Linked DNA regions of Homo sapiens: regions 2 and 3 are each reported to be linked to region 1. The links are microRNA targets in miRTarBase. Many come from high-throughput screens and were not tested one by one. Region 1 holds a microRNA gene; each other region holds the end of a gene's coding sequence.

Region 1 (3,245 bases):
TCTACTAAAAATACAAAAAATTAGCTGGGCGTGGTGGTGGGTGCTTGTAATCCCAGCTACTTGGGAGGCTAAGGCAGGAGAATCGCTTGAATCTGGGAGGCAGAAGTTGCAGTAAGCCGAGATCACACCATTGCACTCCAGCCTGGGCAACAAGAGCGAAACTCCATCTCAAAAATAAATAAATAATAAAAACACAAAACAATTAGCTGGGTATGGTGGCACACATCTGTAATCCCAGCTACTTGGGAGGCTGAGGCAGGAGAACTACTTGAACCCGGGAGATGGAGGTTGGAGTGAGCTGAGATCACACCACTGCACTCCAGCCTGGGCGACAGAGCAAGACTCTATCTCAAAAAAAAAAAAAAAAAAAAAAAAAAAAAAAAAAAAGAGCTTTATTCACCAGGCGCAGTAGCTCACTCCTGTAATCCCAGCACTTTGGGAGGCCGAGGTGGGCAGATCACAAGGTCAGGAGATCGAGACCATCCTGGCTATCACAGTGAAACCCCATCTCTACTAAAAATACAAAAATTAGCCATGCGTGGTGGCGGGCGCCTGTAGTCCCAGCTACTCGGGAGGCTGAGGCAGGAGAATGGCGTGAACCCGGGAGGCAGAGCTTGCAGTGAGCCGAGATCATGCTACTACACTCCAGCGTGGGCGACAGAGCAAGACTCCGTCTCAAAAAAAAAAAGAACTTTATTGAGTTTTAATTGACATACAGAAAGCTGTACACATTGCAAGTGTCCAGTATGGTCCGTTGGGACATACATGTTCAGCCGCGGAGCCATCACCGCGTCAGGCTGGTGAGCGCACCGTATGTCTTCCCTGGAGAGCTTCCTTGTGTTGTGCCCATTTTGAAGCTGTGGAAGCAGAGGCCAGAGCAGAGCCAGAAGCTTATCAACACTGGGGGCACTGGGGCAACATCAGGGCCCTCTCTGAGCCCCATCCCTGGCTTGTCCCCACTCTCAGGGCTCCAAGGTGGGCAAACTGACCCTCAAGACCACAGAGATGGAGACCATCTACGACCTGGGCACCAAGATGATTGAGTCCCTGACCAAGGACAAGGTCCAGGCCGGGTGAGCAGTCAGGGGCCATGCCAGGCAGCCAGGGGGATGGGCGAGCTTGGGCCCATTCCTTTCCTTACCCTACCCCCCATCCCCCTGTAGGGACGTGATCACCATCGACAAGGCGACGGGCAAGATCTCCAAGCTGGGCCGCTCCTTCACACGCGCCCGCGACTACGACGCTATGGGCTCCCAGGTGCGGCCGGGACTCCCGGGATCCCCTCGCCCCCAGCACTGGGGTGTTTTCATCTCCTCCATCACCCCCTTGACCCATGGGGTCTGGATCTTCCTGTTACCCTGACTGTTTGTCCTGGTACTCCTGGGTCTTCCCTGTAACCCTAGGACAGCAGGGCCCCTCAGCCTGGCACTATAGCTTCGCATGGCCACATGTGGCCTGTGGCTTCTAAGGTCCTCCGGGAGCCCCCGTGACCCTCAGCGCTCTGGAATGTCCCTAGTCCTGACTACCTCCTGGGCCTGGGGTTTCCAGATGACCCCATTTAGCCTCCCAGCTCCATTTCCTGGAGCTCCAGTCTCCCCCAGACAGAGGGCTTTAGGGGCCCCCTTCATGCCCTTCCCTGCCCTGTCTCCGCCGTTCTTCCCCCACCCCCGCCCCATAGACCAAGTTCGTGCAGTGCCCAGATGGGGAGCTCCAGAAACGCAAGGAGGTGGTGCACACCGTGTCCCTGCACGAGATCGACGTCATCAACTCTCGCACCCAGGGCTTCCTGGCGCTCTTCTCAGGTGAGGCCCCTCCTGCCCTGCCCTGCCCTGCCCTGCCCCAGGCCTAGCAGCCTCCCTCGGGCTCCCTCTGTTCCTGAGCTCCGAGTGTGGCCCACCTGCTCCACGCTGTTTCCTGTAACTCCGGCCCGTGGCTGCCTCTGTTCTCCACCTGCAAGTCCGCTCCGTCCCCACCCCTGCTGGTGCTGTGATGGGTGTGGCCCTGCCCTCTCCCCTCCTGTGTTCTCTGCCTCTGTTCCTCCTCTTTGGGGATGTTTCAGGCTCCTCATCCCTCCTTGCTTTGCTCCCCTTCCTCCATCCCTGGCATCATCCTTCTCTGTCTTAGCCACACTCTGGCCCTGGAACCCGCCTCCTCTCTGGCTTCCCTGATGCAACCTGTGCCTCCCATAGGTGACACAGGGGAGATCAAGTCAGAAGTCCGTGAGCAGATCAATGCCAAGGTGGCTGAGTGGCGCGAGGAGGGCAAGGCGGAGATCATCCCTGGAGTGAGGACCCAGGACATGGCCGGGGCGGGTGGTGGGGTGGAGGTGGGCCGGGGAAGTGGGGACGCGGGTGGTGACTCTCACACACACCCCAATCCAAGGTGCTGTTCATCGACGAGGTCCACATGCTGGACATCGAGAGCTTCTCCTTCCTCAACCGGGCCCTGGAGAGTGACATGGCGCCTGTCCTGATCATGGCCACCAACCGTGGCATCACGCGGTGAGCCGGCTACAGGGGCCTCTGGGGAAAACAGGATGCTCTGGGCAGTGGGTGTGGTCAGAGGGTCAATGGGAGCCTGTGTTGACACCGGGTCAGGGAGGGACGCGTGACTGCAGTGTGCGCTCTTTGCTTACAAAAGGCGGGTGGGAGGCAGCTCTGCTTCCCGAGGAAGCCCAGAGACTGTGTTCTTGCTGCCTTTCTGTCTTGCTGCTCCTTTAGCCCCCAAGGCTGCAGTCTTCAAACTGCGTGCCGAGGCACCCCAGGGTGCTGCAGGAAACTCACAGGAGTGCTGTGGGATGTTTTCTAGTCTTGAGGGAAGCACAGTGACATCTGTTAGACATAACATAAACTACGATTGTTCAGTCACTTCGACCCAGCAACTCCATTAACAGAACTCTTAGCGTTGTGTTTGGCCTAAGGATGCCAGGGACAGATTCCCATGACACAGAGGGTACCGTGCTCTGCTGAAGCCTGGGAACCTCATCTCCCAGGTGTTGCCAGCACCCTGTGCACGGGGAACTCTTAATGTTGTGTTTGGCCTGAGGATGCCGGGGACAGATTCCTGTGACACAGAGGGTACTGTGCTGTGCTGAAGCCTGGGAACCTCGTCTCCCAGGTGTTGCCAGCACCCTGTGTAGCTGGGATTACGGGCACCTGCCACCATGCCCGCTGGCTGTCTTCTCCACCTCGCCACATTTTGGCCCGCAGGAAGCAGGGGGATGTGGAGGGCAGGCAGCCCCCATA
Region 2 (3,245 bases), not on the chromosome of region 1:
AATTGGGTGGGTCCTCTAGCGACGAGGTTGCAGGACCATACAAACAGCAGGAGTCCAGAGCCGGCATCTTAAACAGATGTGGCAGGTGTCTGGCAGGCCTGAGGAGACAGCCACAGCACTGGTGGTACAGCTATCATGGCAGCCAGGGGCTTTGCAAAAAAACACTACGGGCCAGCTGGGTTTGAGAAGGTTAAGCTGCCTCCTCTTGGGAGGACTGCAAAGAAAACTGTCCAGTGGGCACATTCCAGTGTGAATGGGGCGGTAGAGGTCATGATGAGTCAAGAGGTTGAAGGGGAAGCAAAGCTTTCTTTTCAGAGGTTCTAGAGGGCCCAGTGAAAGGATAAGCTGGGTCAGCAGAGGGGACAGCTTGAGCCTTGAGCAGGTGTGACTACTGAGGTCACTAGTGATTCTGCCCTTCCTAGCCATGTGGCCTCAGGCAAGTCACTGCCCACCCCCCAGCATCAGCCTAAAATCAGAAAATATCTACAGCCATGGGCTGGTACGCCTCGTGGGCCTGAGAGAGCAGGAGTTGCTCAGAAAGAACAGGAGCTGGATCTGAACAGATGGGGCAGGGCAGGGGGCAGGGATGCACCTGTGAAGACAGAAGGTGGGTGATCCGGCCACCCCCTTCCTCTCCTCACTAGTGACCTGGATGAGGAGAAGGGGCCTCAGCAGAGGAAGCACGGGCAGCAGCCCTTACCTGAAGCCCATCAGCCTGTCAGCATTCTCACCAGCCCTGAGCCCCACAGACCACCTGAGACATCCTCCGCCACTAAAGGAGCCCCCACTCCAGCTTCAGAACCCTCAGTCCCTCTCTCACCTCCCTCTCTTCCTGATCCTTCCCACCCACCCCCCAAATAAACCAAAAGTGGACACAAGTGTGAATCTTAAATTATTATTATTTCTTCCTGTCGCTTACACCCGAGGTGGGGGAGTTGGGGTGGGGGGAAGGGAATAGGAGGGGGGGAGTGCCTCTCCCCCTAAGGCACTGACTGGGAAAGCCGAAAGTAGGGAGAAGGGAGGCCACATTGTCCCCACTTTCTGGGGCTGGGCCCCAGGTCTCCCCAGCCCTGGGCTCCCCCCATCACCTGAAATGCTAAGATGAGGCCCAGGACAACCCGATCTCCCCGCCACCCCAATATATTACATCATCACTTTTTAAATAGATAACAGGGACTGGTCCCGCTACCCCCTCCCTGTGACCCCTCCCCACTGTTAGGGGTACCTGGGCAGCTGTGCAAATGGGCATGGGGGTGCATGGAAGGGAGGAAGAGCACCGGGCCCCTGAACCTGCCCCTTTTAAGGAGGGGGAGGAGCCGTCAGGCCAGGAAGGGGAAATAGTGCAAGGCAGAGCCCAGGCTGCAAAAGGGGTCCAGCACCCAGCGAGGAAGGGGGGGTGTCCCCCACCCCCAGCAGAATTGGGTAGTTAAAAATCTGAAACTAGATTTCAACAAGACCAACAGAAGAGGCTATGTACAGAATGGGGGTGGATTCAATCCTAAGAGCAGAGTGGGGATTATTCTCCCCTGCCTGACAGGAAGCCCGGCTGGCAAGGATCTGGGAAGGGGATCACTTTCCCACAGGTCCGCAGCCCCTTCCCCTGCGGCCAAGCGAGAAGTTCTGTGCCCACTGCCTTGGCAAGGGGGCGCCGCTCACCAGCTGGGGTGGATGAGGAGCGTGAAGACAGCTCGCTCCAGTGGCCGCGGGGGGCGCTCGCCCACTCAGAGCATGGCCGCCAGATGGCGCCGGCTCGCCCGCTCTCCACAAGGCTCTTCCAACCCCTTACCCTGTCCCACACCCTTCGCTGCGCCAGCCCGGGGGCGGCGTGAGTCAGGGGCGGCAGCGGTGGCGGCGGCTCCGGCTCGCACCTGGGCGGGGAGGAGATGGGGAGGAGGAGAAGAGGGTAGGACGCCGCCCGGCCCGCCCTGCCCTCTGGCCCCGGGGAGGGAGCGGCGGGAACAAGACATTCCCTGCCCAGGGCCGTGGGGAGGGAGGGCTAGGGAGGGGAGTGGAACGGAGCGGCTCCCCTAGCTGGGCGGGGCCCCTCTACTGCCCCCAGGGGCAGGCGAGCCAATCAGGCCACCCCGCCCCCTTCTCCACGACCCCATGACTCAGCGCCGGGAGCAGGGCGGAGGGGGACTGGGATGGCTCCTTCCTTACAGGCCCAGTCCCCCAGTCTTTCAAGCTTCCACCTGGCTTTCCCCCACCTACCCTTCCTTTGCCGGCCCCCTTTGCATAATTCACTGCCAGGAAAAAGGAACAGAAACCAGGAAGGAGGGGTCTCGAAAGGGAGGGGCAGTCCTTCACCCCCTTACACAGCCAAAACCCCCAAGGGGCATAGGGGCGGGGCAAGGCTTTGGTCCCAAGCCCCCACCCCCTAGAAACCCGCATAGCCGAAGTGGGACCCACAAATTAGAAATACATTATTGCTTCTACTCCCCAGGAGCAGCTGGGGACAGGGACCCCACTTTTACAATACAGCTGTAAATATATACACAATATATGTATCACTCCTTGGGGGATCACCCCAATTTGGGGAGCCTCTGCCCCAATACCTTCTTAGCTTGGAATTGGAATGAGGGCTCTGGGAGGAAGGGCTGATGCTGATGCCAGCAAGGCTCCGTGCCCCAGACCCCTGCTGTGTCTGTCCTGCGTGCTCCCACTGCTTGGCATGGGTGTCCCCGGCCTTGTGCTGCTTCAGTCTGGCCCTCGTCCCTCTTTAAGAGGACTCCATGGCACCTTCAGCCTGGGGTGTGGTGGGTGCCCCTTCCTCCTCATCGTCATCAGGGGGCCCTGGGGTAGAGACCGGGGGCCCAGTGGGGGCTGACTGCTCCCAGAATCGAGCTAGAGAGAGGCGGAAGGTGTCCAGGTGGCCATTGGAGAGGTCGAGGCCAGCGGGGGATGCAGCAGCGGTAGAGGGTGGTGGGTAGTGGGGTGGTGCATCGTCCTTGCGGCGCCGTCGGGTGCGCACCTCCAGGCAGTTCTGGCCTTTGAGGTGGCGCTGCAGGTGGTCCTCCTTGGCGAAAGCCTTGTGGCACAGGTGGCACTCATAGGGCCGGTCCCCTGTGTGCAGGTGCATGTGGTTCTTGAGGTCGTAGCTGTGCAGGAAGCGGGCTGGGCAGTGCGGGCATGAGTAGGGGCGCTCTCCCGTGTGCTTCCGCATGTGGATCTTCAGCTTGTCGTTCCTGGCACAGGCAGGGGTGAGGGGCAGGGAGGTGTTCAGGATGGGATCCCTGGCTCCTCCT
Region 3 (3,245 bases), not on the chromosome of region 1:
CCCTTGCTTTGGGGGTGTGCCAAAAGCAATACACTGGCCACTAGAGAGTACCCTAGAGCTCTAGAATCCCCTCCCAACACGCACACACACACACACACACACTCTCTCTCTCACACACACACACTCAGTCACACACACACACACACACACACACACTCTCTCACATACACTTGTCCTGGAAGCAGGAAAGTGGATCTTTCCAGCTTCCATAAAATTTTCTCTGCTAAGTGGAAAGAGGGTCCTAGAACTCAGAGGAATCCACCTCCCTTACTTAAAGGGCCCCTTTCTCTCCTCCTGTCCCTTGACCCTCCACCCCGCCCTATGGTAGTATCCATGGCCTAGCTGCTCTAACCAGGGCATCTGCCCCTGGTCCTGTCTCCACAGAGCACTACAAACACCACTGGTTTCCCGAAAAGCCGTCCAAGGGCTCCGGCTACCGCTGCATTCGCATCAACCACAAGATGGACCCCATCATCAGCAGGGTGGCCAGCCAGATCGGACTCAGCCAGCCCCAGCTGCACCAGCTGCTGCCCAGCGAGCTGACCCTGTGGGTGGACCCCTATGAGGTGTCCTACCGCATTGGGGAGGACGGCTCCATCTGCGTCTTGTACGAGGAGGCCCCACTGGCCGCCTCCTGTGGGCTCCTCACCTGCAAGAACCAAGTGCTGCTGGGCCGGAGCAGCCCCTCCAAGAACTACGTGATGGCAGTCTCCAGCTAGGCCCTTCCGCCCCCGCCCTGGGCGCCGCCGTGCTCATGCTGCCGTGACAACAGGCCACCACATACCTCAACCTGGGGAACTGTATTTTTAAATGAAGAGCTATTTATATATATTATTTTTTTTTAAGAAAGGAGGAAAAGAAACCAAAAGTTTTTTTTAAGAAAAAAAATCCTTCAAGGGAGCTGCTTGGAAGTGGCCTCCCCAGGTGCCTTTGGAGAGAACTGTTGCGTGCTTGAGTCTGTGAGCCAGTGTCTGCCTATAGGAGGGGGAGCTGTTAGGGGGTAGACCTAGCCAAGGAGAAGTGGGAGACGTTTGGCTAGCACCCCAGGAAGATGTGAGAGGGAGCAAGCAAGGTTAGCAACTGTGAACAGAGAGGTCGGGATTTGCCCTGGGGGAGGAAGAGAGGCCAAGTTCAGAGCTCTCTGTCTCCCCCAGCCAGACACCTGCATCCCTGGCTCCTCTATTACTCAGGGGCATTCATGCCTGGACTTAAACAATACTATGTTATCTTTTCTTTTATTTTTCTAATGAGGTCCTGGGCAGAGAGTGAAAAGGCCTCTCCTGATTCCTACTGTCCTAAGCTGCTTTTCTTGAAATCATGACTTGTTTCTAATTCTACCCTCAGGGGCCTGTAGATGTTGCTTTCCAGCCAGGAATCTAAAGCTTTGGGTTTTCTGAGGGGGGGGAGGAGGGAACTGGAGGTTATTGGGGTTAGGATGGAAGGGAACTCTGCACAAAACCTTTGCTTTGCTAGTGCTGCTTTGTGTGTATGTGTGGCAAATAATTTGGGGGTGATTTGCAATGAAATTTTGGGACCCAAAGAGTATCCACTGGGGATGTTTTTTGGCCAAAACTCTTCCTTTTGGAACCACATGAAAGTCTTGATGCTGCTGCCATGATCCCTTTGAGAGGTGGCTCAAAAGCTACAGGGAACTCCAGGTCCTTTATTACTGCCTTCTTTTCAAAAGCACAACTCTCCTCTAACCCTCCCCTCCCCCTTCCCTTCTGGTCGGGTCATAGAGCTACCGTATTTTCTAGGACAAGAGTTCTCAGTCACTGTGCAATATGCCCCCTGGGTCCCAGGAGGGTCTGGAGGAAAACTGGCTATCAGAACCTCCTGATGCCCTGGTGGGCTTAGGGAACCATCTCTCCTGCTCTCCTTGGGATGATGGCTGGCTAGTCAGCCTTGCATGTATTCCTTGGCTGAATGGGAGAGTGCCCCATGTTCTGCAAGACTACTTGGTATTCTTGTAGGGCCGACACTAAATAAAAGCCAAACCTTGGGCACTGTTTTTTCTCCCTGGTGCTCAGAGCACCTGTGGGAAAGGTTGCTGTCTGTCTCAGTACAATCCAAATTTGTCGTAGACTTGTGCAATATATACTGTTGTGGGTTGGAGAAAAGTGGAAAGCTACACTGGGAAGAAACTCCCTTCCTTCAATTTCTCAGTGACATTGATGAGGGGTCCTCAAAAGACCTCGAGTTTCCCAAACCGAATCACCTTAAGAAGGACAGGGCTAGGGCATTTGGCCAGGATGGCCACCCTCCTGCTGTTGCCCCTTAGTGAGGAATCTTCACCCCACTTCCTCTACCCCCAGGTTCTCCTCCCCACAGCCAGTCCCCTTTCCTGGATTTCTAAACTGCTCAATTTTGACTCAAAGGTGCTATTTACCAAACACTCTCCCTACCCATTCCTGCCAGCTCTGCCTCCTTTTCAACTCTCCACATTTTGTATTGCCTTCCCAGACCTGCTTCCAGTCTTTATTGCTTTAAAGTTCACTTTGGGCCCACAGACCCAAGAGCTAATTTTCTGGTTTGTGGGTTGAAACAAAGCTGTGAATCACTGCAGGCTGTGTTCTTGCATCTTGTCTGCAAACAGGTCCCTGCCTTTTTAGAAGCAGCCTCATGGTCTCATGCTTAATCTTGTCTCTCTTCTCTTCTTTATGATGTTCACTTTAAAAACAACAAAACCCCTGAGCTGGACTGTTGAGCAGGCCTGTCTCTCCTATTAAGTAAAAATAAATAGTAGTAGTATGTTTGTAAGCTATTCTGACAGAAAAGACAAAGGTTACTAATTGTATGATAGTGTTTTTATATGGAAGAATGTACAGCTTATGGACAAATGTACACCTTTTTGTTACTTTAATAAAAATGTAGTAGGATAAACTTGTGTGGTGTAGAGAAGTTAAAATCCTCACGTTGTACATTTGTGTTTCCCTTTCAGATCCAAATCCTTTCTTTGTGTTTAATAGTATTTCTCCTCACTTGCACTCAGACAATCTATAGCATGTGGGTGGTATAAAAGAAAAATCTGGTTGTATGGCTGGGCCATTTCCAAGCATCCCCTCTTTCCTGGAAAGTAGCTCCTTACTTCCCTCCGTTTTGTTTGTTTGTTTGTTTGTTTTGAGACAGTTTTGTCACTCAGGCTGGAGTGCAGTGGTGCAATCTCAGCTCATTGCAACCTCTGCCTCCTGGGCTCAAATAATTCTCCCACCTCTGCCTCTTGAGTAGCTGAGATTGCAGGCATG

What was found. Region 1 holds the annotated microRNA hsa-miR-6798-5p (CCAGGGGGAUGGGCGAGCUUGGG, at 1,102-1,124, shown strand). A microRNA usually pairs through its seed, bases 2 to 8, with sites in the 3' UTR of a target mRNA and lowers its output. Matches are read on the target gene's strand: a 7mer-m8 pairs with bases 2 to 8, a 7mer-A1 pairs with bases 2 to 7 and ends in A, and an 8mer does both.
Region 2: miRTarBase lists ZBTB7B as a target of hsa-miR-6798-5p. Seed matches in the 3' UTR shown: 7mer-A1 at 1,831-1,837.
Region 3: the mRNA of BTG2 is a reported target of hsa-miR-6798-5p. Seed matches in the 3' UTR shown: 7mer-m8 at 1,788-1,794 and 7mer-A1 at 2,688-2,694.

What each region holds. Positions count from the first base shown.
Region 1 is chr19:49,008,810-49,012,054 of GRCh38, forward strand. It overlaps MIR6798 (microRNA 6798), which reads left to right and starts at 1,097; the gene lies at 1,097-1,163. RUVBL2 (RuvB like AAA ATPase 2) reads left to right here. Exons shown (of 15, transcript NM_006666.3): 7 at 967-1,073; 8 at 1,164-1,257; 9 at 1,679-1,802; 10 at 2,190-2,284; 11 at 2,383-2,501. RefSeq lists an enhancer at 631-1,132 and a silencer at 2,955-3,129.
Region 2 is chr1:155,016,160-155,019,404 of GRCh38, reverse strand. ZBTB7B (zinc finger and BTB domain containing 7B) reads right to left here. Exons shown (of 3, transcript NM_001256455.2): 3 at 882-3,185. The coding sequence ends at 2,720. DCST2 (DC-STAMP domain containing 2) reads left to right here. Exons shown (of 15, transcript NM_144622.3): 15 at 645-878. The coding sequence ends at 861. Among named protein-coding and RNA genes, the nearest start is that of ZBTB7B, 15 kb to the right of the region's middle. RefSeq lists a cis regulatory region at 2,058, a silencer at 1,620-2,089 and an enhancer at 1,986-2,130.
Region 3 is chr1:203,306,720-203,309,964 of GRCh38, forward strand. BTG2 (BTG anti-proliferation factor 2) reads left to right here. Exons shown (of 2, transcript NM_006763.3): 2 at 385-2,883. The coding sequence ends at 719. Among named protein-coding and RNA genes, the nearest start is that of BTG2, 2.8 kb to the left of the region's middle. RefSeq lists enhancers at 77-1,019, 436-675, 1,020-1,962.